Regions from separate parts of the Homo sapiens genome. Here all the other regions are linked to region 3. The links come from fine-mapping of genetic effects on plasma protein levels. A gene starts in region 3. Each other region holds a variant in brackets. All regions are shown on one strand. Distances are between the middles of the regions.

Region 1 (2,832 bases), 16 kb after region 3:
CGTGTACTTACTTTATAACTTACAGCATATTTATTTCAGCATATTTACTCTTTAAAAATATTTAAACCTTCCTGCTTATTATGATTTTTTTTAAACTGTGCAGATGACTCTGCTTTTGCATGTTGCAGCAGTTTGGCTGATTTTTTTTCCCTCTCTATTCCAAGCACACATTTTATTTCAAAAGGTAAGCTTTAGAGCAGTGCTTCTCAACTTCAATGCAATATGAATCACCTGGGGATGCTGTAGAACTTACAATTTGACTTGAATAGTTTTGAGTGGCCCCTGAGATCTGTGTTTTTTAACAGGCTCCAGGTGATGCAGCACCATCTGTCCCTGGGCCACACTTTGAGGAGCAATGCTTTACACTGTCTCAAAACTTCGAAGGCAGTTTAAGAGTCTTACAAAAGAAGATCCTTGTGGTCACTGCTAGAAACATAGACTGGACACTTATGGCAAATTAATTATAGCCTCAGTCTTCTTAAATTGAGTCTTGGATGTGAGCAAAGTGAATGTATAAGATAAAAATAGTAAAATATATAACTTATAAAAGCCCAAAGAAAATGGCTTTATTTTCAAAACAATTGTAACAATATTCAATAATGTGGTATGAAAAAAGTGGGTTACAATAATGAAACTTTTCTGTTTGTTATACTTGGATATGAGAAAAACTACTAACTGTTGACTACAATTTAATTTTTGTTTCTCATAAATCAAATGAATTCTGCAACTTTTTGTACAAACATGCATTTATTTTTACAGTTTTTGTGGAAAGAGGCAAAACACATTTAATCAAAAACATCAAACACCACATTTGAAAAAAGACTTATCTATTATGTATAAAGGAAAATATCCAAGACAATTTCTTTAAAATATATACAATTCTAACATAGTTATGCAATATATACATTCATATTTTGACTTAATCTGCCAAAATAAACAGGTACATATGAAACTTTATTTACATAATGGCTACAGTTTCAGTCTTTAGAGTTCAAAGAAATAGTTAAGATTTTCACCTATTTCATACTTTTCCCCCATGTTTCTCATTCACCTCTAGAGGTTTAAATTAACCTTTCAAATTGATTAAAATGGGTATGCCTGAATGTACACAAAAGGGCATTGTTTTATGTGTGCAAATTGAAATATTAAAGATGGATCAGGGATCTCAGTTTAAGGAATCCTGCCTTCTGTATGATGATGTCTTAATTTTTGAGATTTTCATATATTGGGTTATAGCTATATATCAGGACAGGTAAATACATTATAAAATTATAACCTTTATAATAATTTTTAGTATAATCACTTGTGTGACTATAATAAATTGGCTTTAGTTTTACTCTTCACAGTTTTAATAGGTAACTATTTTACAAGAATAACATTGCTAGGTAGAAAAATTTCTGTTCAGTTAGGAGTTCTTATTTTGCTGCTGAAATGAGTCATGCACAATTTTAAATCTCTGTAGTTTCTTCATAAGCTATTTTACTATCTTACTATTTTATAAGCCTTGTGTTGCAGTCAAGTTTTTACCACATTCTATAGACCTTGTCTGTACACCATTTATGAAATGGAAATTTGAATATGACATCTTTTATGCCCTCTACTTACTTTTAAAGCAAAAATATTGTTGAATAGGAACACATAGCTTTTATTTAAACAATGTTTTTTCCCCCTAAATTTCTTGTATGAATACTTACCTTTGCTTAAAAGTGCTTGAGAAA[T/C]ACTGCCCCCCAGGAGGCATTTGACAATGTCTGGAGACATTTTTTGATTGTCATGACTGCGGGGGGAGCATGCTCTGGCATCGGGTAGCTAGAGGCCAGGAATGCTGCTAAACATACCTTCTAGGACAGGGCTGCTGTCCTACAAGGTACAGGACAGCCCCTGCAAGGAAGAATCACCTGGCCCCAAATGACAGTAGCGCCCAGGTTGAGAGACCCTGTCCTGGTGTGATAAATGGTGCAGAGACAAGTGGCTAATGGTTTATAGTAATTCAACTACTCCCTGGAAACAGTGTAAACTAGGCTGATTACCTAAGGCAAGGCTAACCAAAGCTTTCAAGTTCCGTATATGTATGTTTAGCACTTATTTAAGGAAGTACTCACCTAAAGGAGGTGAGACAGAGTAAAAGGAAGGATGTGCTATAATTGTTTGTATAGCACATTGAAAAGCTAGTATTTACATATACAGTACTAACTTTTTTTTTGTTTGTTTGTTTGAGACAGAGTCTTGCCCTGTCACCCAGGCTGGAGTGCAGTGGCGCGATCTCGGCTCACTGAAACCTCTGCCTCCCGGGTTCAAGTGATTCTCCTGCCTCAGCTTCCCGAGTAACTGGGATTACAGGCACCTGCTACTACGCCCAGCTAATTTTTATATTATTAGAGATGGGGTTTCACCATGTTGGCCAGGCTAGTCTCAAACTCCTGACCTCGTGATCCACCGGCCTCAGCCTCCCAAAGTGTTGGGATTACAGGTGTGAGCCACCGTGCCTGGCCACATTGTCTTTTTAAATAGTCATTTTTTTGAGACAGGGTCTTGCTATGTTGCTTAGGCTGGACTTGAACTCCTGGGCTCAAGCGATCTTCCTGTCTCAGTCTCTCAAGTAGCTGGAGCTTCAGGTACACACCAGCACCACTAGCTGTTAAATATTCTTTATCAAGCTAATGACTAGTTTCTCCAGTCTTTTTTTTTTTTTTTTAAATAAAATTTTGTTGGAATGAAGCAGCAAATTCTCACAGCTGTTAAAAGAATTGGACTCTGGCATACCTAACTGGAGAATACCATGCTGTTTTTTCTATAAACCGCTGGCATTTTATGCCTTTTTTGTTTGTTTTGTGT
Region 2 (2,474 bases), 60 kb after region 3:
CAAAAGTACATTTAGACATGGGCCGGTAGCTTTAAGGCATCACTTCCAACTTTGTTCTTGATAGTTACTTTTCTTTCAATGGAATGATTTCTTCTCTGTTAGAGGCCATCAGTGTACAACAGCAGTACTATTGCCAAGAAAGATGATGTGCTACAGTGTATGATTTGATTCCCAAGAGTAATATTTGTAGTTTTTAATACTGCCATATAATATTTTAATATGGATGACTATTAGAACACTGTTTTTAACAGGAAGATTAAACTTGATATAAATAAACTTTCTAATTACCAATGGACAGAAGCTCGCGAACAACTATAAGCAATCACAGATGAAGAGTAACATCTCATCAAAGGATGGTAACTGTGTAATAAATAATTAGAATTGAATACAACAAAAACCAATGTGCTCCTAATCAGCGTAGTCAATTGAGGTCTATTTATTGTGCTGAATTTCCTCTATTATGGGCTTCAACAACACTGGAAAGAAGATGCTATATGTGCATATGGGGCAGGGAGTTTCTGGCTTTCAGAGAAAATGCCACTGGAGAGCATCTTATTTGAAAGAATTTCTGAACAAGATGTTTGGGAGCATTCCCTAATCCTAGAGATCAATAAGGTCACACCCTTCTGTTAATGTCCTTGTTTGCAGGCATTGAGATCATCCTCTAAGCCTAGGAGATGGGCTTTCCAGAACAGGAGTGGCAGTGAGGGATCTCTGAATGGCAATAAGAGGCTCTCTGAAATACAGGTCAGTATGTAAGGAGGTGGAAGCGGTGAGGACTGGATTTCTGAGTTCCATCTGCTGTGTTTTGCCAAGGGAGCAGTGAGCTAGGCACTGGGAAGATAGTGAGAAATATAATATTCCTGGACCCCTTTCTCTAGGGATGTAAGACTTGAGAGGGAGGAAAGAATAAAAAATAACTGAGAATTTCAAAGTCCAATACGAGAGGAAGATGGTAGTAATCCCACGACAGAGCCCCAGGACTTCTGTGTGAAAAAGAAGAAAAAAGATTTAAAGAAATGTGGTAGGTTAGAACTTACAGGAAGGTCAAATTTAGGCTGTAAGAAAAGAGATTGAGTTAAACCACTTCTAGAGAGGAATCAGATGCACTGTGGTAGGAAGACACAAAAGAGGAAGACTGTGAATTCTATATAGGAGACTTAAATAAAATTAGTCACATTATGAGGGTAACTCATTTAGAAACAGAGGAAATAAGGAGATACATATGAAAACTTATAAGGGGCTTTAAGAGTGGTGCTTTCTGGAAACCAGTGCTATATGTAGTTTTATTTAGCGGAATGTCCTGGAAAATGCCCACAGGGAAATTTCCAAAGCTTCTGTGGGTATTGAGATACTCTTGGTACTGAAAAGCAATTTCAATGGGAGAAACATATAACAACATGTTATAATAGTGAACAGGAAAGCAGAGAAGCAAATTTCAATAAAGATAGCTGGAAAGCATTTAGGGAAAAATATGTCAACAATTTGTATTAGATGTTGGACATTAGAGTATAAGATGCAATCCATGAGCATACACTGGTAACAGTGAACTGGTCCGGGTTGACACTGGTTCAGTATACTGCTACAACCAGAATGGCTCAGGAAATGGCAGATTCAATCAGAAAGGAAAAAAAAAATCCAAAACCAGAAACTGAACTTTAAAATAATACTATTGAGCTTTAGGTGCCTACCTCAAGAAGATGTAAAAGCAAATTAAAGACTTCTTAAAATATAAAGAACTATATAAAATTATTGAAAAGACCTTTTCTGTAGGCAAAAGGGCAAGCTAAACTGGAATATGATAAATAACTATAAAATATTATCATAAATGCTGGAACTATGCTTAGTGACTTATTTATACAAATTTCAGAATTCAATAATTGTTTTACCAGCAAGGAATAAACAAAAGAAATTAATTATTGGTCCAAATGGACATAAAAATACATATTGAATTTTAAAATGTAACTCATGGGTTAGAAGGGAAAGACAGGAAACTAAAGGAAGATTAAAATGTTATATCCTGGCCGGGCATGGTGGCTCATGCCTGTAATCCCAGCACTTTGGGAGGCTGAGGCAGGTGGATCACCTGAGGTCAGGAGTTCAAGGCCAGCCTGGCCAACATGGTGAA[A/C]TCCTGTTTCTACTAAAAATACAAAAATTAGCTGGGTGTGGTGGCAGGAGCCTGTAATACCAGCCACTCGGGAGGCTGAGGCAAAAGAATCGCTTGAACCCAGGAGGCAGAGGTTGCAGTGAGCCTAAATCGTGCCATTGCACTCCAGCCTAGGTGACAAGAGCAAGACTTGGTCTTAAAAAAAAAAAAAAAAGTTATGTCCCATACCTTTAATGCTTGTGTCAGAAATAGAACTCTAAGGTCAAAAGACCAGCACTGGGCAAAGCCATAGGTAGAATAACCCAATGTAGTAAAAGTTTCAATTAACTTTAAAAACTACCATCAAATGCATTTAAAATGGGGATTT
Region 3 (2,801 bases):
ATTTTTTTTTAATATTCTGATGTCATTTACATTTTATTTTATAATCATATCCCATAATTGATATCTTAGTTTTACGTTTGAATGGGTTAAAATCTCAATGCCAGTTTTTTTAGTTTTTCATTTTTCCCATATTAATACCTTTATTGCTGAGTTATTTACTTTGATTACTCTTGATTGAGTGGACTTTTTGCCCAAGAAAGATTTTTAAGAAGGGTTCTTGGGTATTGTGTTTTTTGAGTTTTTGCTGATTTAGGAGAATCCTGCCCCACCAGTTTGGCTGTAATATTATGGGATCATGCTTTTGTTCTCAGCCTTTTTTACACACTGCACATTGCCATCAGATGCCACTGAGGAGTCTAAGGCCACTATTGTCATTCCCTTGTTTTTATGCCTGGGTGTGAATATAGTCTTTATCCTTTATGTTTAGCAACTTTACCAGGATACACATTGGTATTCATTGCTCCTTGTCAATTTTTCCTACCAAGGACTCTCCAGCCTCACTTCTCATCACCTCCTTTGCTGGAGGCACACCTGCCTTGCCAACTACTTGCCCTTCTGTGAACTTATTATGCTTCTTCATATCCCTGTGGCTTGTCAGAGGCAAGTGAAATTTCTTCGTGCTCTACTCCCACTCTTGTCATTTACTGCCACCATTCTAGCAGATTTACCTTCTCAGCATCTTCTCACTCCCCAGGTGACACAACCACTTTCCCCTTCCACCCTTGAAATGTAACACAGATCCTTAGTATTACAGGGAATTATCATTCATATTTAAAACTCTCCTACCCAGGACTGTGAGCTCCAAGGAAAGGGACGTGTAACTTACATCCACTTAACGACGCAAGCAATTTAAAGCCAAGAGTTCTTGTTGGCAAGAATTGGGAAAGTTGGACGGACAGTATACAATTACCGAGCAGCCAATAAACAGGAAAAGTCATACAGTTCGAATGTTCTGACCAGGCGGATATTCTGTCTTTAAGAAACACTAATCATATACCTGGGAAAGAAAAAAATCTTGGGCCCCTTCAAACTGGGAATTACTCAGGGCAAATCTGCCTCCTATTCTATCCAAGTCACCTCTTTTGCTGACAAAGAATAGATGCATATTCTGATTGCCTCCTTTAGAAAGACTTATCAGAAACTCAAAAGAATGCTACTGTCTATTACCTACCTGGAAGCCCCCAGTTGGGGGGGGCGGGGCTTGCTTTTAACGGTCTCCGCCTTTCTGGAAGGAACTAATGTACTTTTTACATATTGATTGATGTCTCCTGTCTCCCCAAAATGTATAAAACCAAGCTGTGCCCTGACCACCTTGGGCACATGTCCTCAGGACTTCCTGAGGCTGTGTCACGGGCATGTCCTCAACGTTGGCAAAATAAACTTTCTAAGTTAACTGAGACCTGTCTCAAATTTTCGAGGTTCACATACCGTAGGTAAAAGTGTCAGAAGCCTAAAGGTGAGCCAGTGGAAAAGCCTGAAGACCCCTGCAAGGTTATTAGCTAAGCCTCCATAACGCAGGCGGCAAGTGTCCAGGAGTCTGGCGTCTGCTCGCCTGCACCACGACCTCCCTCCTGGGGAGAAGGACATGCATGGTAAGCCATTTCTCCATTTCCATACTGATTGCTTCCTCTCACCACCACGGCCCATCTGCGAAGCAAAACTAATCCTGGCGTGGAACAGGCCGCCTGAGGGAAACAGCTAGAGCCCGGCGCGGGGCGGAGCTGGTTGTGCGCATGCTCCGTGCAGGCGCAGGCGGGGGCTGAGCGCCGTCGGGTTACGCCTGCGCTCCGGGTGAGCCCGCGCCTGCGCCTTTGCGGCCGTGATTCGGTCCCGCTGTCCTAGGCGGGATGGTGCCGCTGTGCCAGGTAAGGGTGGCGGGTGTGCGTGCGGGCCTGGGTGCGGAGCCCTCCTCGACGTGTCTCTCCCGCCCTTTCCCTCCACATACCCAGCCTTGGTCAGTCGGACCTCCCCACTAGCCCCCAACCTGGCCGGCGTCTTGGGTTCGGGGGCGCCCCCGCCCCCGCCCCCGGGCCCTTCCTGTCTCCGGGCTTTACTGCGACTGCCCCAGCAGAAGTCGGGTCCTCTCCGAGAACTCTTGTCAGCTCACGGCAGCAAGGACGGACTCGTTCTGAAGGCGCCTCCACCTTTTATGACCACCTCTTTCCCAGATTATTCGTTTTGATGAAGCTAAAATTTTAATCTAAAAAGAAATGCACCTCATGGAGAATTCTTGTGAAGAACTGTGCTTCATCTGTGGATTTCTACACCCTTGATCATTTGCAAACCTGTAATTATTTCGTAAAGAGTTGTTTGCACGGAGTGACAGGTGCCTATTTTACTTCGTCGGATCCCTTACATACCAGGCTGCTGGCACAAGTTTGTTCTAGCAAATTCCAGTCTGTCGTGTGTTTCAAACCTACTTGCTTCTGTAAATGTCAGATTTACTATGTTGCATAACTTAATCCTTAGCGTCTGGGGACGATGTTATACAGACCGGAATCTAAGGTCATTTGACAACCGTGAGAAACAGGTTTTTCGCTTATTTATTCATTTATTTTATTTGTGTAACTCATCTCTTGACTCAAACATTTGTTCTTTGCTTACATATTTATAAAAGGTGCTATACTTTTATGTCAATTAAGGCAGGCTTAACATGTTTTCCTAGAAGATAAATACTTAGGATTTTAATGATGGCACACTTAAGTTTGTAAAACTAAAAGGCATCCAGAAATTAGTCTGAATTGTATTTAAAACAACAAGTTTTCAGAATTTGAACTTGTAGGTATACTGAAATTTTTTAC

Alleles and levels. Alleles are on the strand shown, and positions count from the first base shown. The strength of an association depends on the size of the effect and on how common the allele is.
As copies of C replace T in region 1, the plasma level of the protein whose gene starts at base 1,820 in region 3 goes up (strong association).
With allele A in place of C in region 2, the plasma level of the protein whose gene starts at base 1,820 in region 3 is higher (strong association).

Evidence for each region. PIP is the posterior inclusion probability: the model's chance that the variant is causal. The UK Biobank Pharma Proteomics Project read protein levels with antibody pairs (Olink). The fine-mapping took linkage between variants from a reference panel, not from the people measured, so its PIPs are less certain.
Region 1: its variant is fine-mapped to the plasma level of the MOCS2 protein (UK Biobank, PIP above 0.99).
Region 2: its variant is fine-mapped to the plasma level of the MOCS2 protein (UK Biobank, PIP above 0.99).

The regions. Positions count from the first base shown.
Region 1 is chr5:53,092,485-53,095,316 of GRCh38, reverse strand. It overlaps ITGA2 (integrin subunit alpha 2), which reads right to left. Exons shown (of 30, transcript NM_002203.4): 30 at 538-2,832. Among named protein-coding and RNA genes, the nearest start is that of MOCS2, 16 kb to the left of the region's middle. The variant T/C (reference allele first, on the strand shown) is at 1,719.
Region 2 is chr5:53,048,860-53,051,333 of GRCh38, reverse strand. All of the region lies in intron 6 of ITGA2 (integrin subunit alpha 2), which reads right to left. Among named protein-coding and RNA genes, the nearest start is that of MOCS2, 60 kb to the left of the region's middle. The variant A/C (reference allele first, on the strand shown) is at 2,129.
Region 3 is chr5:53,108,776-53,111,576 of GRCh38, reverse strand. MOCS2 (molybdenum cofactor synthesis 2) reads left to right here and starts at 1,820. Exons shown (of 7, transcript NM_004531.5): 1 at 1,820-2,326. It overlaps MOCS2-DT (MOCS2 divergent transcript), which reads right to left and starts at 1,735. Exons shown (of 2, transcript NR_104654.1): 1 at 1,429-1,735. RefSeq lists a silencer at 1,792-2,081.